Regions from separate parts of the Homo sapiens genome. Here region 1 is linked to region 2. The links come from fine-mapping of genetic effects on gene expression. A gene starts in region 2. The other region holds a variant in brackets. All regions are shown on one strand. Distances are between the middles of the regions.

The links. PIP is the estimated chance that this variant, and not a neighbour inherited with it, causes the effect.
Region 1: its variant is the best candidate, but not a certain one, in a credible set for the expression of GRTP1 in esophagus muscle (GTEx, PIP 0.55).

What each region holds. Positions count from the first base shown.
Region 1 is chr13:114,334,271-114,344,478 of GRCh38, forward strand. LOC112268113 (a long non-coding RNA gene) reads left to right here and starts at 4,077. Exons shown (of 3, transcript XR_007063890.1): 1 at 4,077-4,727; 2 at 8,651-8,776. The variant T/A (reference allele first, on the strand shown) is at 3,924.
Region 2 is chr13:113,360,092-113,370,299 of GRCh38, forward strand. GRTP1 (growth hormone regulated TBC protein 1) reads right to left here and starts at 4,039. Exons shown (of 8, transcript NM_024719.4): 1 at 3,929-4,039; 2 at 3,671-3,819. The coding sequence starts at 3,960. It overlaps GRTP1-AS1 (GRTP1 antisense RNA 1), which reads left to right. Exons shown (of 2, transcript NR_120385.1): 2 at 1,468-1,777. RefSeq lists a silencer at 3,623-3,917 and enhancers at 4,905-5,598, 5,599-6,292, 6,987-7,680.

The sequences.
Region 1 (10,208 bases), 970 kb after region 2:
TAGGAGTGTTATAAAGGGTAGTTTGTACAATGAGCTCGTGACTATGAAATGCTTAGCATGGCATCCAAAAAGTCCTCAGTAAGTGGTGCAACAATACCTTTTTATTACAGAAAACACACTCAACCTAGAAAACAGTGTTCATAGGGGATTCAGAGAAGTAAGTACAGTTGGGTGAGCAGAGCAAGCCAGCGTGGAGAGGGTCTTTCCTAGGTGAGGCCTCTACCACATTTGAAAGTGGGATGCAGGGCAAGAGCTCAACATCAACCAGGACGGGCAGGAATGAAGTAAATAGCTCACACCTGTTCCTTCATGGGTCAGTTCCTTTCATTTTCACTTTTGACTCTGATGCAAAATTAGAACTCTGCTCAAATGTCACTATTCTTAATAAAGTAAAGTAAATAAGTAGGATCCAAAAACTTCAATTGCATAAAATACGTGCTCTTATGACAAGGCAAATGGGAAATATTTTGCAGTTGGTCATTGCCATCACAATAACACAAATTCTAAAACTTATACTGTTTACAACTGAACCACACCCTCAAATAATCAAAAAATGGTCCCTCCCTAAACTCTCTCCCCAGGAAGAGAAAGTCTTTGGCTGCCCCAACCTGAGCAGGAAAGCAGGTGGAGAGGGGGAGCCCACAGCTACAGTGGCAAGAAGTCTGAGGGCTGAGGGCTTTGACCAAATAATAGGGAATTGGGTTGAGTTGTTTGAATCATTTTCCAATAACTGACGTATAAAATAGATTCATTGAAGGAGCTGGGGAATGGGAGCCCACCCCTCAGTCTCCAGCCTCCCCTCAGTCTCCAGCCCCCCCAAACTACATGTTTCTCCAGAGTAACCTTGAGCCTCTCCCAGCATGGATTAAAACCCATGGCTCTTCCAGATCTAAAATCTGAGGCTCTACAATTTAAGTCATAGTTAGGCACTTCCATACCTGTGATGGTAACATTCTTACATACTCAGTCTATCATTGTTTAATATTGAATGAAAGACACACATTTTGTTTACTTATTATGCAGCAGCTAGTCTGTGTTCACCTGCGTTGTCTCAGGGTCAGCTCTTTATTTCCAAGAATCCTGTCCCATTTCCTGGAGCCTATTGACCGGGGGAAAGATGTGGTCAAAAGTTAAAGGTATGTTGGGCAAAGCCTTAGAAACAGCTTTTCTGACAAGCAATGGGGAAAAGACCCCGTTCAATAAATGGTGCTGGGAGCTGGGCCCCTTTCTTACACCATACACAAAAATGAACTCAGGATGGATTAAAGACTTAAGTGTAAAACCCAAAAATATAAAAACCCTGGAAGACAACCTAGGCAATACCATCCTGGACATAAGAACAGGCAAAGATTTCGTGACAAAGACACCAAAAGCAATATCAACAAAAGCAAAAATTGACGAGTGGGATCTAATTAAACTAAAGAGCTTCTACACAGCAAAAGAAACTATCAACAAAGTAAACAGGCAACTTACAGATTGGAAGAAAGTATTTACAAACTATGCATCTGACAAAGGTCTAATATCCAGCATCTATAAGGAACTTAAACAAATTTACAAGAGAAAGACAACCCCATTAAAAAGTGGGCCAAGGACATGAAGAGACACTTCTCCAAAGAAGACAAACATGTGGGCCGGGTGTGGTGGCTTACGCCTGTAATTCCTGCACTTTGGGAGGCTGAGGCAGGTGGATCATGACATCAGGAGATTGAGACCAACCTGGCTAACATGGTGAAACCCCGTCTCTACTAAAAATACAAAAAATTAGCCGGGTGTGGTGGTGGTCGCCTGTAGTCCCAGCTACTTGGGAGGCTGAGGCAGGAGAATAGCATGAACCCAGGAGGCAGAGCTTGCAGTTAGCTGAGGTCGCGCCACTGCACTCTAGCCTGGGTGACAGAGCAAGACTCCGGCTCAAAAAAAAAAAAAAAAAAGATAAATGTGGTAAACAAGCTTATAGAAAAAAGCTCTAGATCACTGATCACTAGAGAAATGCTCATCAAAACCACAGTGAGGCACCATCTCACACCAGTTAGAATGCCTATTACTAAAAAGTAAAAAACCAACAGATGCTGGCAAGGTTACAGGGAAAAGTGAACACTTATACAATGTTGGTGGGAGTGTAAGTTAATTCAACCATGGTGGAAAGCAGTATGGTGATTCCTCAAAGAGCTAAAAGCAGAACTACCATTCGACCTAGCAATCCCATTACTGGATATATACCCAGATGAATATAAATAATTCTACCATGAAGATACATGCATGCAAATATTCATTGCAGCACTATTCACAATAGCAAAGACATAGAATCAACCCAAATGCCCATCAATCATGGACTGGATAAAGAAAATGTGCTACATATACACCATGGAATACTATGCAGCCATAAAAAAGAACAAGATTATGTCTTTTGCATTAGTATGGATGAAGCTGAAGGATATTATCCTTAGCAAACTAATGCAGGAACAGAAAACCAAATACAGCATGTTCTCACTTATAAATGGGAGCTAAATGATAAGAACTTGTGAACACAAAGAAGGAAACAAAAGACACTGGGGTCTACTTGAGGGGGGAGGGTGGGAGGAGGGAGGGGAGCAGAAAAGATAACTATTGGGCACTGGGCTTAATACCTGGATGATGAAATAACATGTACAACAAATCCCTGTGACACGTGTTTACCTGTATAACAAACCCTCCCATATACCCCCCAACCTAAAATAAAAGTTAAAAAAAAAAAAAAGGAACACAGCTTTTTATTTTTTTCTCTTTAATACCATAAAGGTCATGGGCCATTTGCCACCTGAACAGTCAGTAACACATGAGTGTAAAGAAACTGAACACCCAGGGACACCAGAGACCGTTCACTGTAGAGGAAGGAGGCAGGTATAACTCATAAGGTGAACTTCCTCCAGTCCCAAAGTGGTTCCCCTCTCCTTAAATGCGGGTCCCATGGAATTCAGATTTAGAAGTGAAGCAAATGAGAATAGCTCACAGGGGAGCAGTTCAAATGTGCCGAAAAGGATAGAGCAGCCCCAATAAGGAAGGAAGGCCAGACAAGCAATGGATTTGTAGGGAAGACAATGTGCACCCATCAGAGCTCTGATTCCTTCACTTCCACTACCCTGCCCTGCCCACTAACTTTGAAAAAATATGGATGGCAAGTGTTGGGCCGTAAGACATTTCCTTGCTTTATAATCTGGATTTAGTGGGTTAAATTTCAGAGATAGTGAAAACATCCCCCTTTAGTTAACTTTTAATTTCATAATTGTACCTTTTTTTTTTTTTTTTACAGATATTTGAACATGTAAAACAAAGAAAAGAGTACGGAAGTAATTTATAATCAACAAATATGTGTTCACTGAGTAAGTGATACTGACATGGCATATGGCATACAAGCATCCTGAGAGTAGGATCATGGGGCATTCAATGGTGATTGTCCCTAGAGCTGGTTAGGGCCCAGCTTTCCACTGTCCTTGTACTGCTGCGTGTACAATCGGTGTCTTCTTTAACTTCACAGAGATGCCACAAGGCAAATAGCATTGTCTTCACTTTCTGTGTAAGAAAACTAAGGCTCGGTGAGAGTATGCAGAGCTGGTTCATGGATTTGTTTGGGTCCTTCTAGTTTCAAAACCCGTGAATATTTTCCTGTCTCTAATGCTAATCTTAGCAATATATTTGGAATAAGCATATAAACATATAACCACAGTCCACTCAGGTAATAGGCAACTAAATTATAAATAAATGCTCAACGAGATTATGAGTGATTGAATGAGCTATATACAAGAATAATAACTGGTGGAAGTGTTATTCATAGGATAAAGTAGAAATCATTTAAATGGCTAATAGTATAAGGAGGGTTAAATCAAGCAGGTGTGGAAATAGCTGATTTACATATATAGTTTATGCCATGTAAAACGTTTATAATCTAA[T/A]ATTGGATGAAAAACAGATACAATATTTTATGTACAGTATAATCTAAAATTTCTATGTTTAGTTAAAAATGCAGGAATATAATTATCAAAATTTGAGTGATAAAATTATGAATAATTTTTTTCTTTGATAACTCATTTTATATTTACCAAAGATCCTCCAAAGAGATTATACACTTTTTTTAACTAGAAAAAAGTTATTTGTTAAAGAGATCATAAATGACATAATATTTTACAGAAGTTAAGAGCTGAGATTGTGAGAATTTCCAGGGACTCCTGCCATCAGCCCACCTCGCATCATTGTTTACATGGAAATGTTGGGACTGAGGTGACCTCATGCCTCTCAATTCCCAGCCAGCCTTCTCTCCCTCTGGCTCTTAGCTAGCCTGTTAAACAGAAAATAATCAGTGAGACGAATAAACTACACCCTAGTGTTCTAACAAGTTACACATAATTGCTTGCTTACCAATTGTCTACCTCAGAACTTTCTTTTCCTCATAGAGTCAACATAATCATCTATTTTAAATTCGGCTTTTGCCATTTTACAGTCCAAGATGCTGGACTTTGCATAGGGCATGGATGGGTTTCCACAGTCCACACGAGGATGGGAGGAGAACAGGGCAGATCCAGCCCCACTCAGTGAGAGTTCTGGCTGGAGTTAGTTGGCTGGACTTCACTCCAGAGAGAGACCTTCCTCTGTACCAGCTACCAAGACAGCCCCTAGTTGGAAAATCTTTTCTTCTAAGGTGAGATGCAGCCCCCACTGGAGAGAAAAACACCAGAGAGTTTTAAAAAGGAAAAACCAAGGTAAGCTGAGGGGCTTCTTGACAGGGGACACAGCAGAGTCCACCCAGCTGGGGTGAATCTCCGCAGTTCCCCAACAGGACAGCGGGTGGGAGCCCCAAGTCACTGGCCCCTGCAGTGTTGGAGCAGCGTGAGCCACCTGTAGTCACATTGTCTCCTCTGGCAGCAGCCTCCATCCAGAAATGCATCTCAGGGTCTGTCGTCACAGGAACCTGATGCCAGAGCAGTGCGCTCAAAGTATTTGGCCACAGGTATTTTGTGGAACTGAGCATTTTCCACATCTTGCTGGAGGTCATTGTGTGTGAACTTGATGGAGCTCTTTCTCCTGGGCTTTTTTTCTAAGTGTGGGAGAGCATGGCCTGCATGACTGCTGGCTTCCAGCACGTGTCGTGCAAACCCATGCCAGGGTGTGTAATTCACTGTAGCCCTTGACAGAATAGCAGGGGATAAAGCTCATTTTTTAATCTTCTGTTTATTACCCTCAGCCAATTAACTTCTATCTACAGTAGAAGATATTTTGCCAATTTTTTTTCAAAATGGAGAAGTACCGTGCTCTTTAAAAAGTCTTTTAGAGGCACAGACTTCTCAATTTCATTACATTAAAATCACTAAAAGATAGAAAAAAGTGAAATTCACGTATCAAAGAAATTTTCTTTTAGCAAACCACTCTATTTTGTTTTGAAATGTTTGTGAATTTTCCATGCATGTGTCCAGATACATAAGGAGTTTATTCATTCAATTAAGTTAAAACATTGGATAACATGGTAAATTCAAAAAGTAGTGAGGACACGTTTTGTTTCTCTCTGTAACTGAGAAAACTGACTGATGCCTCCTGTGTGCGAGCACTGTGTAGCTGATGCAGATGTGGAAACCAAGGTTTTCTTACTTGCTGCCGCTGGCCCTGGCACTGGATGTTGGCTCCTGGAGGGCAGGGTGTCTGTTTTTATTACCACTCAGCAAGTGCCACACAAATACACATGGGTGTCTCTGCCCTCTAGTGGATCCTGGCAGGCACTGGGCGCAAATGTGACTATAAAAAAAATGAAAGATTTAAAAAATGCCCATTACCTCTAGAGGGGATTTAATTATAACACGAGGCTTTTTTTTTTCTTTTTCAAATGGGCTGATGGGTAAAAATAATGCAAGACTGGAGATGCGTTTGCCTTTCGGCATCTATGATGACTGAGTCTTTCCTCAGTGCTGCCACAGGGAGCACATTCACACATATGTCACACAAATACCAGGGTTAGGTCAAAAAACCAAGTGTTACCTGGAGGAAGCCACAGAGGCTATGAGATGAAGCCTTCACCTAGAAGACACCCGACAGTTCAGAAACCGAGATCCTGTGAGGTGTCTTGGAGAGCTCAGCTGTGACCCCGCACCGTATGAAAGGGTGGGCATTGGGGTTCAGGCAGGTGAAGAGAATTGTCCACTGTTGAGCATCATCAGCCTAAAACCCACATGCAGTGCTACTGCTGCAAAACCACTGACTGTTGAAGCCACAAACCGCAGAAACAGAAGCCCTTTATGGTCCTCACTGTGCAACTGGTGACTTTTCAGAAGATGAAGATTAAACATATTAATCATAAATTCAAAGTATCAGAAGAAATACTAGGAGATTTTCTAACCTCTGCTGCCATGACTTTTTTTTTTTTTGCAAGATTCGTGAATTATTGTAAATAAGCTCACAGAGGCCACAGTGCTCCCCTCAAGTCATCCAGAAAGATGCAGGCTGCTAATCCCCACATCTGACACATCTGTGTTTTCTTATGATAATACACAAATTAAAGATAGGGGAGAGAGAGAGGGACAGAAAGAGAGAGACAGAGAGAATTGGAGCTAAGAGGAAACACTTTCCTTTTTATTTTTATTTATTTTTAATTTATTTATTTTTAAGAGGAAACACTTTCATGTTTTGCCCCCCAAAATTCCCAGTGAACATTCCCATTGCCAGTGGGTGAAATCCAAGGCCCTGGCTCCAGGATCCTGCTCTTTCCTGTGGTGACTCCTGTGCAGATTTGGCCTAGAAACACTATGGAAGTTGTTACACTTCTCTGGACAAGTCATTATACTCGTGCTTTTGGCTCACAGGCTGCACTTCCCCGGACAACCCTTCGCCCTAAGCTCCAAGTAATTCAGCTTCATCCTTCAGAGAAGAGCTCAGGTGTCACTTCCTGTAAGGTCCCTCCCTAGCCGCCTCTCCAGCAGAAGGGCCCCCACCTTGCTCTTTGCACCTCTGTCCCTCGAGGTGGTGCTGTCCTCTTTGGAGGGTGGGACCCCGGGAACTAGAGCCCCTCTCATGCTGGTGACACTCGGCACTCTGTAAGTGTGTGCTGAGCGGATACAAGTGCGGCGAGCTTGCACAGCCTTACAATGTGTACTCTCATGTCTGGCATAGAGACCCATTTTCATTCTTTGTAAAATGAGTAAGTGGGGCTGGGTGACCCATACTCTCTTTTCAACTCAGAAGTCCACTATGAGCCTGACGTCAGATAGCTTCCCAGCCAGTGCCAGAGCAGGACCCAGGTTTTTCAATGTGTCTGTGTCCCCACAGCACGGGGAAAGCACGGAGGAATGGGACCAGCTCTGCTTCCTGCTGCCCAGTGTCAGCCAGCAACTCCAGGCTCACAAAGCCAAGGCAAAGGCACCTGCAGGAGATCTTGGTTATTTAGTAGCTGTGATTGGGCTGGGAGGAGAGTGTGTTCACTTCTGATTTTCCAGTGAATAGCATGAGACAGTAAGGTTTGAAATGTGTTTTTTTTCTCTTGCCAAAAACGAAAACAAAAAAGGCTTTTTACCTTCTCATCCTTGGAGCCACTGGCATTAGCTATGGGCCTGATAGTTTAAGAAAACTTGAAAATGAACTAGGTGAACCAGTATTCTCCAAATTAATATTTTGATAAATTGTGGAGTTCTGTATTGCAGCAAAGCTGTTGCTTAAGTGGGCAAAACTCTAGAGGATAGGAAAACACACTCTTGAAATCAGGTGGTGATGCCCTGAAATTCAGCAAACTGCAGGGGCACGTGTTGTTCTACCCCAGGTCAGAGTGTGTCAGTCATCACTTGATGCCACTCACAGACCACCAACTTCAGAATATCTAGGTGTAAAGCTCTGTACAAAAGTCGTAACATAATAATGTAAATAATTTTACCTTAATAATATTATTTATATTACACCATTACATAATGTAAGGCTATTAAAACATGTTTGTCTTCAAAGAATGGCCTTGGTTTCTGTGGGCAGTGTCTCCTTATGGAAAGGTAGTGCATTCCTGCTAAGTCCTGGACAAAACGGGCCTCCAGGAGCTCCAGGCTGCAGCAGCAGCTTCTCATCTATGTCCTTCACTGCATGATGTCGTTGTTGACTTTGAAAGCTCCTTTCAGTCTAGTTTTATCAACAGAGCTAGTTTTTCATGAGGATCTACTACATACCAGGTTCCAGAAGGCTAAATGCCTTTTATTTGTTATTATTCACTAAATACAAATAACAGCTCTCTTCTCATTACTCACACAACAAAATTTAGCTGAGGATGGCTCTAGGAGATGCAGAAGGGGCTGCATCATAAAGAATGAAGAAGGGATTTGTCATGAGAGATGGGACAGGAAATTCTCTAGAGGCAGAGGGAGAGCATGAGAATGTTGGGAAGGGAGGAGAGATTCTCACACATCTGGGAAGCTGACAATCCATGGGCTTCCCATCTGTGTAGTTTGCCTTCTCCAGTGTCTCATTAAATGAGGTCACACTGTGTGTATTCTCAGACTGTTTTCTTCCACTTAGCAATGTGCATGCAAGATTCACTCATGTCTTTGTGTGAGTTGATAGCTTGTTCCTTTCTATGGCTAAATAGTATTCCATTATATGAATGTACCACAATTTGGTTATGCATTTTGGGGAGCAAAACCTTCCTCTTCTAACTTTGTTCCAGGATTGGAGACCTTCAAATTAACTGACAATAGATACATTAGTAGAAGAGACAATACTTGGCTTCTTGTTCCACAAGTATCATTGCGGGACAAAATTCAGCAGATGGCAGGATCCAGTTTACAAAGAGGTAAAAATAGCCCAGAAACAAGAAACAAGACTAGAATCAGATAACTCACAATGGCTATAGTTTTCCTTTAAAAAAATTTTTTTTGAGACAGGGTCTGGCTCTGTCACCCAGGCTGGAGTGCAAGGTGCAATCTCAGCTCACTGCAACCTCTACCTCCTGGGTGCAAACGATCCTCCCTCCTCAGCCTCCTGATTAGCTGGGACTACAGGCACATGCCACCATGCCCATCTAATTTTTGTACTTTTGGTAGAGACGGGGTTTCACCACGTTGCCCAGGCTGGTCTTGAACTCCTGGCCTCCCAAAGTGCTGGAATTATAGGTGTGTGCTGCCATGACCAGCCATGTTATAGTTTTCCATTGAAACATAAAATTTCTCTCTGTAGTAACCATCATTTTTGATCATAATCAAAGTAAGACTATTCTTGTTTCAAAAATAAGTCTAGTTTTATTAGATTTTGCTTGATTATTTACGTAAGTGCATCAAGAACAGGAGATGACCACGTAGGTGCTTTCAAGCTTCTTTGCTGGAAGTTTTCATACAGAATCTCAGATTTGACTTTTAAAGGCCTTATTCAGGCTAAAAGCCAAGCTAAGAACTTACTATCATATTTCAGCTGCAGTCCTTATAGCTTTGTGTGAATTCCTCTCTTCTTGAGGCCCCCAAATATCCCTAAATTCCTGGGCCTACCAGGAAATGACCTTCCTTACTAACCTGTAAGGCTGTGAACCCTGTAATCTAGGTATCAGGCTGGCTTTTCTCAGAGTGCTGTTGGGAATGAAGTTTTTGGTGTTCCAAAATAAAAAAGAATTAATGTGGGAACAAATGATCTCTTAGCAAGGCAAGCTTTACTTTCTGCAGAAAGGGTGCTACTCAATAGCTGTCCAGCCACAAGAGCACACCAAACAAAGGAGACAGAGTTACTTATAATCTGATGTGTCTACCCTAGTGCTGTGTCCAGTTTCCATTGGCTGGAATAGGACCTCACATTTTACACTTTACCCGATTGGCTGTTAGTTTAAAACTTTCTTAATTAGGTAAGGGGAATAGAAGAAAGAAAGAAAAGGAAGTTGCCCAGGGATAGTTAAGGAAGGATCTCCAAATAAGGAATGGCATGCACTATGGGCTGGGGCTTGTCTAGTTCTGTCCAGGCATGCTGGAGCAAGCTAGGACAAGTGATTTGGAATACACACACACACACACACACACACACATAAATAGTGGATAGCAATCTTATAGTAAGAAATTGTGACTTTATAATCTTTGAAGAAGAACTTTCCCATTTCTCACAGTGCTTTGTAAGCATTGTTTCCATAAAAGTCAACCTTACTTCCTTAAAATTGCTGGTCATAAATGATCTTAGGTACACTTCCTAAATATGATATTCCAGTAAAAACCTTGATAATATAACCAAAATTTCCAATTATGTCCGTT
Region 2 (10,208 bases):
GGTGGTGTTAATATTCTAAGCCACCAGGAAGGAGGTCTCAAAGAAGCCAACGGCCCTGAAGCTGCTTCCCTGCAGACGTCTATTCTCGAGATGGAGAATGAAATAGGAATCCAACAGGACTAAGTTTGTTGAATTTAGTCTTTCCAGGGAGGAAGAGGAAGCTGTCTTCCTAAGGGCTCCTGGTGGATATTTGCTATGGAAAAAGGAAAATACAATATTTATTGTACCCACCAAGAGTGTGATCAGGCAGAATACATAATAACTGTCCCTTAAGACATGTGGAATGCTGAGATTGGTAGATGATTGTGTTCCTGGAGACTTTAACATGGGGAGTGCAGATGAAAACCCTCCAAAAGGAGAGGAAAGAACTCTATCACTGTCAGCCTGGAATACCTGGCAGGAAGAAGTGGTATTCCCATTTTTGGAATAACTCGTCCACTCCAGTTTTATACCCGACCCTCTGCTCTTGGGGCTTTGCCAGTGCTCATGGGCACCCTGACGGTCACACTGGGACCCAGGCCCCAGGCCAGTAGAGACACGCGATCACTGACTCCATGTGCCTCCCACCGGAGTCACCAGCATCCCTACTCCCTGCAGAACAGGCCCACAGCCCTGTGGCTCCCACCCCTCAGGCTGAGGCTCATATAGGATCAAAGAGATATATTTGCTCACAGACCCATTTATGCCAGTGATGCTTGCTACCATAATTACATGGTCCACTTAACATTACATAAATTAGCCCAGCATGGTGGCTCACGCCTGTCATCCCAGCATTTTGGGAGGCTGAGGTGGGCGGATCACTGGAGCTCAGGAGTTCGAGACCAGCCTGGCCAACAAGGCAAAACCCATCTCTCCTAAAAACACAAAAATTAGCCGGGCATGGTGGCGAGTGCCTGTAATCCCAGTTACTCAGGAGGCTGAGGCAGGAGAATTGCTTGAACCTGGGAGGCAGAGGTTGCAGTGAGCCGAGATTGCGCCACTACCCTCCAGCCAGGCTGACAGAGCTAGACTTTGACTCAAAAAAAAAAAAAAAAAAAAAATTAAAGCAAAAAGAAGAAAGTTGTTACTTCAATAAAAACAAAATGAAATTTTTAGAAAGAGTTGATAGAGACCAATGCTAAAAAAAAAAAAAAAAAAAAGCAAAAACAAAACTGTTGACTTAGGTGTAAAATAATTGCAAAGGAGTGGGGAAAAGAATAAAAATCTGGAGGATTTTGCATCCGGATTGCTCTTTTCCTTTTCCCTGCTCTTCCCAGAACCCCCTCCCAAGTCCATATTGGAAAGTGGGGGCAATGTGCTGAGTGGTTCCCTAAAAAGGAAAATATGGAACCCAAGTTAGCAGCTCCTGGTCGAAGAAAAGGACAGCAATAGGACAGACCCAAATGGCAAAGGCAAAGACGGGAGAATGACTGTGCAGTTGTGTTTTCTGTAAAAACAAAAATTTATGCACAACCATACATCTTTCAGATTCTCCGCTGTAACCAACCTCCAGGTCACAGCCACAGGACTTCCCACGGACTTCCCCTGCTCTTAAAGCAAACTGCAGAACCAAGCGTGGACTTCTGCTCCTGAGGGGGACGGAAGGACAGTCCCCTGCGGTCATCTCTATAGGAGATGGGGGCCATGGGTGGGAGAGAAACTCCCTGTTGCACTTTGTAGCCCTCAGTATGATTAAAGTGTTTACCATGTACATAAATTATGCTTTTTAAGTTCACATGTCTTATATACTTTTACGTTACTTTTTAAAATTAAAAGACAGTTAACTTTTAAGAATAAATCAGGCGCAGTGGCTCATGCCTGTAATCCCAGCATTTTGGGAGGCCAACGTGGGCAGATCCCTTGAGGTCAGGAGTTTGAGACCAGCCTGGCCAATATGGTAAAACCCATCTCTACTAAAAAATAGAAAAATTAGCCTGGCGTGGTGGTAGGTGCCTGTAATCCCAGCTACTTGGGAGGCTGAGGCAGGAAAATCGCTTGAACCCAGGAGGCAGAGGTTGCAATGAGCTGAAATCATGCCACTGCACTCTAGCCTGGGCGACAGAGTGAGACTCCGTCTCAAAATAAAAAAAATAAGAAAATAAAAAATAAATTAGCCAGGTGTAGTGGTGTGCACCTGTAATCCCAGCTACTCAGGAGGCTGAGGCAGGAGAATCACTTGAACCCAGGAGGTGGAGGTTGCAGTCAGCTGAGATCGCACCACTGCACTCCAGCCTGGGCGACAGAGTGAGACTCTGTCTCAAAAATAAATAAATCAAAAAGAATAAATGAAAAGGAAAAATAAAGACACACGTTCCACTGGAAACATGTGAACATGCAGAGGCCACAGGGATGGGACATGATGCATTCGTGGGAAGCATATAGGATATTAACTTCCATCTCTATAAAAAATTTAAAAATTAGCCAGGAGTGGTGGCCACACCAGTGGTCCCAGCTATGCGGGAGGCTGAGAGGGGAGGATGGCTGGAGCCCAGGAGGTCAAGGCTACAGTGAGTGGTGATTGTGCCACTGCACTCAGAGGGATACCCTGTCTCAAATAAATAAATAAAAGCAAAAGTTGATCTTGTCACCCCCTGCCTGGAAAACCTTTAACAGTTGGCTTCTCTGTGCCTGGCCGTGGTCACCACACACCTCCGACCCTCCGCCCAGGTGCAGGGCCCCTGGTTTCATCTCTGTCCTTCCCCACCAGGTCCCTACTGCTCGGTCCCTGGAAGCCCAGCTGCCATTCACATCCCCCTTCTCAGGAAGCCCCCAGGACTCCCCTTTGACCCCACTTCTCTGAGTTCCTAGCTCCAGGGCACACTCCCACCAAGCCCTCACCCCAGGCAGACACTTCATTCATTCACTGAACACACAGGGAAGTCGCCTGGCACTGCCCCAGGTTCTGAGGACTGAGCAGTGAATGAAAAATCCGTTGCAGGGAGGAAGGGTTTTTGACTCCAGCAGGGGCTGTGCTGGGAAAGGCAGAAATGAGGAGGTGCCCTCCGCACAGGGAAGCCTGGGGCGCCCCGGAGGAGGGGGCCCTGCAGCTAACCCCGAGGCGGGCGGGCGGTCAGGCCGGTGCTCACCGCAGCAGTAGGAGGCCTGGGGTCGCGGAGGAGCGGCAGGTCGAGCAGGGCCCTGTGGGTCCCGTCACAAGGACGGAGTCTCGCTCTGTCGCCCAGGCTGGAGTGCAATGGCGCAATCTCGGCTCACTGCAACCTCCGCCTACTGGGTTCAAGCGATTCTCCTGCCTCAGCCTCCAGAGTAGCTGGGACTACAGGCAGGAGCCACCACGCCCGGCTAATTTTGTATTTTTAGTAGAGACGGGGTTTCACCATGTTGGTCAGGCTGGTCTCAAACTCCTGACCTCGTGATCCGCCCGCCTCGGCCTCCCAAAGCGCTGGGATTACAGGCGTGAGCCACCGCGCCCGGCATGGATCGAGTTTTGATCCATCCCGATATGGCTCCCTGCTGGGAGGGACGGGTCTCCTTCGCGTCCGACCCGCCGGCCCATCTCAAAGCGGGAAAACCGGTCCCTGCGGCTGCCCTAGCTCGGAGCCCGCAGCTTCGTCCCGACCTGCCCGGAAAGGTTCCTCCCCCTCCCTCCGCTCCGGGAGCCCGGACTTTGCCCGGCCCGTCCCAGCCCAACCCACCTGCGCCCTCGGGACCCACCTGCGCCCCCGGGACCCACCTGTCCGGCTCCTGGGGACGCCCCCGCCCTGCAGCAGCCGGGACCATTTGATCGCCCTGCGGGTGAGCGTGACCAGGTAGCTGGAGAAAAACTTCTCGTAGGCGGCGTCGTCGAAGTCCTCAGGCCGCTCGAATCCGTACGGGTCGATCCTGCAAAACCGAGAGAAGGAGGCCGGCGTCCCCGAAGTTTCCTCTGGGGGGTCGCGGGCCCGCGCGGGGACCGCAGCCGCCGGGGACGCCCGCACCCCGCGCCACACACCTGGGGACCCGCGAGCGCTCGGCGGGCTGCATGCGGGGAGGGAGGCGCGCACCGAGCGAGGCCAGCGGGTCCCAAGTTCGCCTCCCGGCTCCGGGGCGCTTAAGTCCTTCCGGCGGGACCGCGGGCGCGTGGGGGCGGGGCGGGGAGCGGAGAGGGGCGGGGCTGGAGGCGGGGGCGGGGGGGGGCAGGGCGGGGGGAGGGGCGGCTGGGGGCGGGGAGGACTTGGGGAGAGAGGAGGGGCAGGAGCGGGGGAGGGGCAGGGGAGCACCCAGGGCGGGGGAGGGGCGGGGCTGGGGGCGGGAGGACCTGGGGAGAGAGGAGGGGCAGGAGCGGGTGAGGGGCGGGGGAGGGCCGGGGGAGGGGCAGGGGAGCACCCAGGGCGGGGGAGGGGCGGGGCTGGGGGGGCGGGAGGACTTGGGGAGAGAGGAGGGTGGGGGCGGGGCGGGGCCTGCTCCCGGGGCTTCCGAGGCCGCGGCGTCCCGCGGGCAGAATCGGGGGCGCCTCCCGCAGAACCCCCGCGGCCTGGACCCGGGTGAGAGGAGCTTCTTCTGCGATTCCTTCAAACCTCAGTGCCTGGCCGACCCGACTCTGACACCTGACTCCTATTTTTATTTTATTTTTTATTTTCTCCGCTGCATTTCAAGGCCGAGACCAACACACAAATGAGAAGCCCCCAGGGGCGCCCGCCCGTTCCTGCCCCCCCAAACCAGGGACCGGGGTCCCCCCACCGGCGAGCCAGGCCTGGGAGAATCCGGGGCAGCTCTGGTTCCGAACGGCTTCTTCTCGGTCCGCATCCAATGACATTGTCCTGAGATTTCAGCTGCTTTTCGTGTCCGGGAGGCCCCGGAAATTTGCCAGAACTGCAGATTTTGAATTTTGCTCTGGCGACGTGGCAAAGGGGAGCCCCCAGACGTGAGGCGCTGGGGCGACCTCGCCCTGGGTCCCCCAGGGGTCTGGAGCGGGGGCTCCTCCGACAGGCCTCTCCCCGCCTGTAATTTAGGCCCAGGGCGACCTGGACAGGCCCCAGGAGGAGGCCGTCCCCGGACTCCAGACGCACTTTCCTGTGAGAAGCAGCCCGGCCTCGTCTGGGTGAGGCGAGGATCACAGGCTCAGCGTCCCCTGCGCGTCCGTCAGGGCCTTTCGGAACCAACTTGGGACCTTCCCATGGGTGTTTCCGGAATGTTCCATGCGAGCGCCACCCAGGAGCCTGGTCAGCAGCGTGTGGAACGGACCGGTCCCTAAGTGCGGACTCCCGCCTCTGCCTTTCACCCTTCTCCAGCCCTTGCAAGACCGGGGGGCGGGGTGGGGGTCAGTGCCCAGCGGAGCAGAGCCCCCGACACGGTTCCTCCCGTTCCTAGTCTGCTGGTTCTGGGAACTCCCCAAGCTTTCAGCCCAGCTCCTCAGCACTGGCCTTTGGTAACACGCGGCGTCCCTCATTTGAAAGATCACACAGCCCCCACTCTACGGTCTGACCTCCTTGGGATGTTTAGACCCAAGCCAGGAGACAGGGCCATAGCCTCCTGCCCCTCGGCCTACGGGTGCCCCACAGTCCAGGACTGACAGGTGGGCGTCCGTCCCCAGGGTCTTCGAACCCCGTCTGGGCTCCTCTCTGCCTAAGTCAGTGACTCCCTGAACCCCTCTCGGGCTCTAACTGACGCCCGAATTTCCTATATCGCATCCCTCGCGCTTTCTGGAGCAACAGACACAGTCCTGCTCCCCACTTCCCAGCACCCGGGGTCCTGCGCCCAAATCGCCCCACACCGCGCAGCTTCTGTTCCAACCCCAGGCCTGGAAGCCTCACGGCTCCCCTTTTCCCTAATTCCTGCCTTCTGGCCATGGAGATGGGGTTCTAACCTCCCTTTCCCACCACTGCCGTGGAAAGCAGCGTGGCAGGCAGCACGGACCAGGGGCCGCCAGCTCCCGAGCCTGAGTGTGATGGCGGGACTGCCACCAAGTGTATTTTTGGGCCAGATGTAGGGAGACTGTGGGGGAGCAGGTCAGATAAGAGCGGTGCCCTCCAGGAAGAGTGGAGAGGAGAGATACAGAGAGGCCAGAGCCCCAGGCTCTGTGCAGGGTGGGCAGCCAGACCGAGGCAGCTAGAAAGGTCTCCCGCTCCAGCCCAGGCCTGGCCAAGCCCCAACCTGGGACCTGACTGGGAGACAGCAGCTCCTATCTGGAACAGCTCCCACCTGGGACAGCTCCCACCTGGGACTGTGTCCCTCAGGTGCCTCCATTCACCGCCCCCCCGACCCCAGTGCCAAGCACCCAGCAGGCACCCGAGCATCCTCACACAAACTCCCTTTCTGTGAAGCCACCAGCACAGTCAGCCATGATGCAAAAGCCAGGTGCACACCCACCCCAGGAGTGACTGTGCTGGCCACAGCCGCTCCAGACAGCCCTTTCCGGGGGAGGCTTTGCAGTGCTGGAGCTCTGGGTCAGCTTGCCCTGCAGTTCAGGGACTCAGAATTCACCCTCCCCCGGGGGACCCAGCTCCCTTGCAGGAGGCCCTCTTCAGTCTGAGGGGCCTCAGGGGCCACACCAGGGGGCCTCTGTGGGGTCACCACCCATGATGCCCCTCCTCCCTTCAGGAATTCAGCCGTCTTGTTGCTTTTTTTTTTTTTTTTTTTTGAGTCGGAGTTTCACTCTTGTTGCCCAGGCTGGAGTGCAATAGCTCAATCTCGGCTCACTGCAACCTCCGCCTCCTGGGTTCAAGCGATTCTCCTGCCTCAGCATCCCAAGTAGCTGGGATTACAGGCATGCGCCACTACGCCCAACTAATTTTGTATTTTTAGTAGAGACGGGGGTTTCTCCATGTTGGCCAGGCTGTTTTCGAACTCCCGACCTCAGGTGATCCGCCCACCTTGGCCTCCCAAAGTGCTGGGATTACAGGCGCGAGCCACTGTGCCTGGCCCTTGTTGCTTTTTTTGTAGAAGCTGCTGCCCTTTGGAAGTTAGAAGGGCTTCAGGAGTACTTCAGTTCTGGGGTGCCCATCAAGATAGAAGGAACGTCTAGCATCCCCAAGGCCGGGAGGACCTGAGAAAATGGGATGTGAGTACAGAGGACAAAGATAACGGCAGCAGAACCCACCGAGCAGTGATGAACCATGACGTGGGCATCTTCGTGGAGCCACAGCATGTGCCAAACCCCACGGAGCTCCAGGCTGTCCTGGAGGCTGAAGCCAGTCAATTGACCACATGCTGCCTGGTTACAGGAGACGGGCAACTGGGAGTGGGGAGGGTCACCCAAATCTCACTGCAGGAAATTCCAGTGCAGTGCGACTCTAGCCCTGAGGGGAGGACAGGTCTTGCCAGAGACCTGTGGGTCCTGGTGCTGCAGAGCTGGCTGGGGACTGGGACGCTGCATTTCCAACCTGCTAGCAGGAGGCCCTGCTCTGGCCCATGGACCGCATTGTGCAGCCAGGCTGTGGAACCCGTGGCCTGATTTTCAGCAGAGGGCTGGAGACAGAAATCGGCGGCGAGGGGGCAATGTTATAGGTGGAAAGGGTGTGTTAATATTTCAGGGAGAGTCAAGCCCTCATCTGAGGTGTGTGTGTATATACATACATAATAATATATAACAGTAATGATTATTTTTAAGGAAAATTGACAGATAAGCTTTACCTGAGCCCTATGATCCTGGGAGGTTAGGAAGTCCCCCCCTTTATGTTCTGGAAACAGCTCAGAACCCTGTCCCCAGGTGACAAAGATGAGATTCATGATGTCCCTTATTTACCTGTGACAAGGCTGGACACATCCTCCAAAGTCCTGTCTTTTGCCTCATAAATATGTAACTGAACTGTTGTTCTAATTGGAACCAAATACACTGGTGACCAGTTCTGGTTAAGTCTCCTCCAGGGCCCTGACCGTGGGCCCAGTGACCAGTTCTGGTTAAGTCTCCTCCAGGGCCCTGACCATGGGCCCAGTGACCAGTTCTGGTTAAGTCTCTACCAGGGCCTTGACTGCGTGCCCAGCCTCAGCCTGGGCAGGGGTTCAGATGCAGCTTTCTCGCATTGCTGCCTGGTCAACAGGCCCCCCACCCCCCCTCCCCACACCTGCTGCTCCACTGCACACAAGAAAACCGCGTTTTGCCCAACTCTTGAGACCTCACCGGTCTGACACACTTGCAATCATCCTTTCAGAAACAGTACCAAGTCTAGATTTTTTAAAACGCTCTCAATTTATTTATTTATTGCTCCTGGCAACCACTCTTCTACTTTCTGCTTCTACGCATTGGAGATTTGCTTTTTTTTTTTTTTTTTTCTGGTTTGTGACAGGGTCTTTTTCTGTCACCCAGGCTGGAGTGCAGTGGTGTGAACTTGGCTCACTGCAGCCTGGAACTTCCGGGCTCAAGTGATCCTTCTACCTCAGCCTCCTGAGTAGCTAGGACCACAGGCATGTGCCACCACACCTGGCTAATTTTTTAGTTTTTGTAGAGATGGGGGTCTTGCTATGTTGCCTAGGTGGTGTCAAATTCCTGGGCTCAAGCAGTCCTCCTGCCCCGGCCTCCCGAAGCACTGGGGTTACCGGCATGAACCACTGTGCATGGCCCTGATTTGTTTTTTATTTGACAAAAGAGAAGAGTACTTATGGGTAAAATGATATGAAGTCTGGAGTTGGCTTTAAAAATACTCCAGCACGCAGGGTACAGTGGCTCACACCTGTAATCCCAGCACTTTGGGAAGCCGAGGTGGGAGGATCACTTGAGGTCAGGAGTTTGAGGCCAGCCTGGCCAACATGGTGAAACCCCTTCTCTACTGTAAACACAAAAATTAGCCGGGCGTGGTGGTGGGTGCCTGTAATCCCAGCTACTCGAGAGGCTGAGGCAGGAGGATCGAAAGTTCAGGAGGTGGAGGTTGCAGTGAACCCAGATCACACCACTGCACTCCAGCCTGGGCAACAGAGTGAGACTCTGTCTCAAAAAAAAAACAACAAAAACCTCCAGCAAAGAAAAAAAAAGCAGAGGGTAGATTAAAAATAAAAAAAAAGCAACAAGATGGAACTCTTTGAAGATGACTGACTGAGGAGATTTTTGTGTCTGTTTGATAATTTGCTTTAAACGGTGAGGAGGGATGCCCCCTTCTTCTGGGGCCTGCCCTGCTGCGTTGACCATGGCAGCGTCAACAAGCTCAGGCCATGGTGAGTCCTAGCTTCTGGGCCAGAGGCCACCCTCCTCTGGAGCTGGGGCTGCAGGACTTCGTGTGCGAAGCATCACCTGACTCCCCCGACCCACAGACCCTCCTGCCTGAAAGCAAGCAGGGGTGCATGCAGGGAGGTGGGGAGACAAGCGCCCAGTCTGCAGATCCAGCGGCGCAGGCCGGCTCTGGGCCGTCCCTTTGCGCCTCCCGCCTTCCCTTTGCCCTGTGTTGGAGGCCTGAGCCAGAGCGTGCGGACCTGATCTTGCTGGGACGAGGGTGATGAGCGGCTGTCCAGGAGAAGCGGGCTGTGGCCACGCCGCGTGGGGAAGGCCCAGACGTCGAGTGGGCCTGGGCAGAGTCGGCCCCGAGCTCAGCCGCACCGTCGCTAGGCGCCCCTCTGTCCGTGGGAGTGACGGAGGACACGTGACTCCTGGCTGTGCCCGCTAAGCCGTGTTCAGCAATCCTGGTGGTTTTTAATTTATTTTTATATATTTTTTGAGACGGAGTCTCGCTCTGTCGCCCAGGCTGGAGGGCAGTGGCGCGATCGGGTTCCTGCCATTCTCCTGCCTCAGCCTCCCGAGTAGCTGGGACTACAGGCGCCCGCCACCACGCCCGGCTAATTTTTTTGTATTTTTAGTAGAGACGGGGTTTCACCGTGTTAGCCAGGATGGTCTCGATCTCCTGACCTCATGATCCTCCCACCTCAGCCTCCCAAAGTGCCGGGATTACATGCGTGAGCCACTGCACCCGGCCTATAACCCTGGTGGTTTTATGGCCGTCAAAGGGCAGCAGGCTTGACCCAGCCCCTATTCAGGACCCTCCCAATCTCAGGGACCACTGCTATCAGCCTCTGGGAGGTTGCCAGTGCGGGAGGCCCACCTTAAGGATGGTCACCTCAGGGCCTCTCTTGTAGGGGTTCTGTCCGAGAAGGCCTCTGAAGAAGGAAAGCACGTTGAGGGGGATGGCAGGGCAAGGTGCAGGCTGCAGGCTCTCCTGGAGTGGGGCAGCTCCCGGCCACCCCGGGCTCCCTCAGGAAGCAAGAGGCTGACTCGGAGGCGGCTTTAAAGTCAGGCTCTTCCAGTTGCTTTGCCTCTTTCATTTTTTCAGAATTTTTTTTTTTTTTGAGACGGAGTCTCGCTGTCACCC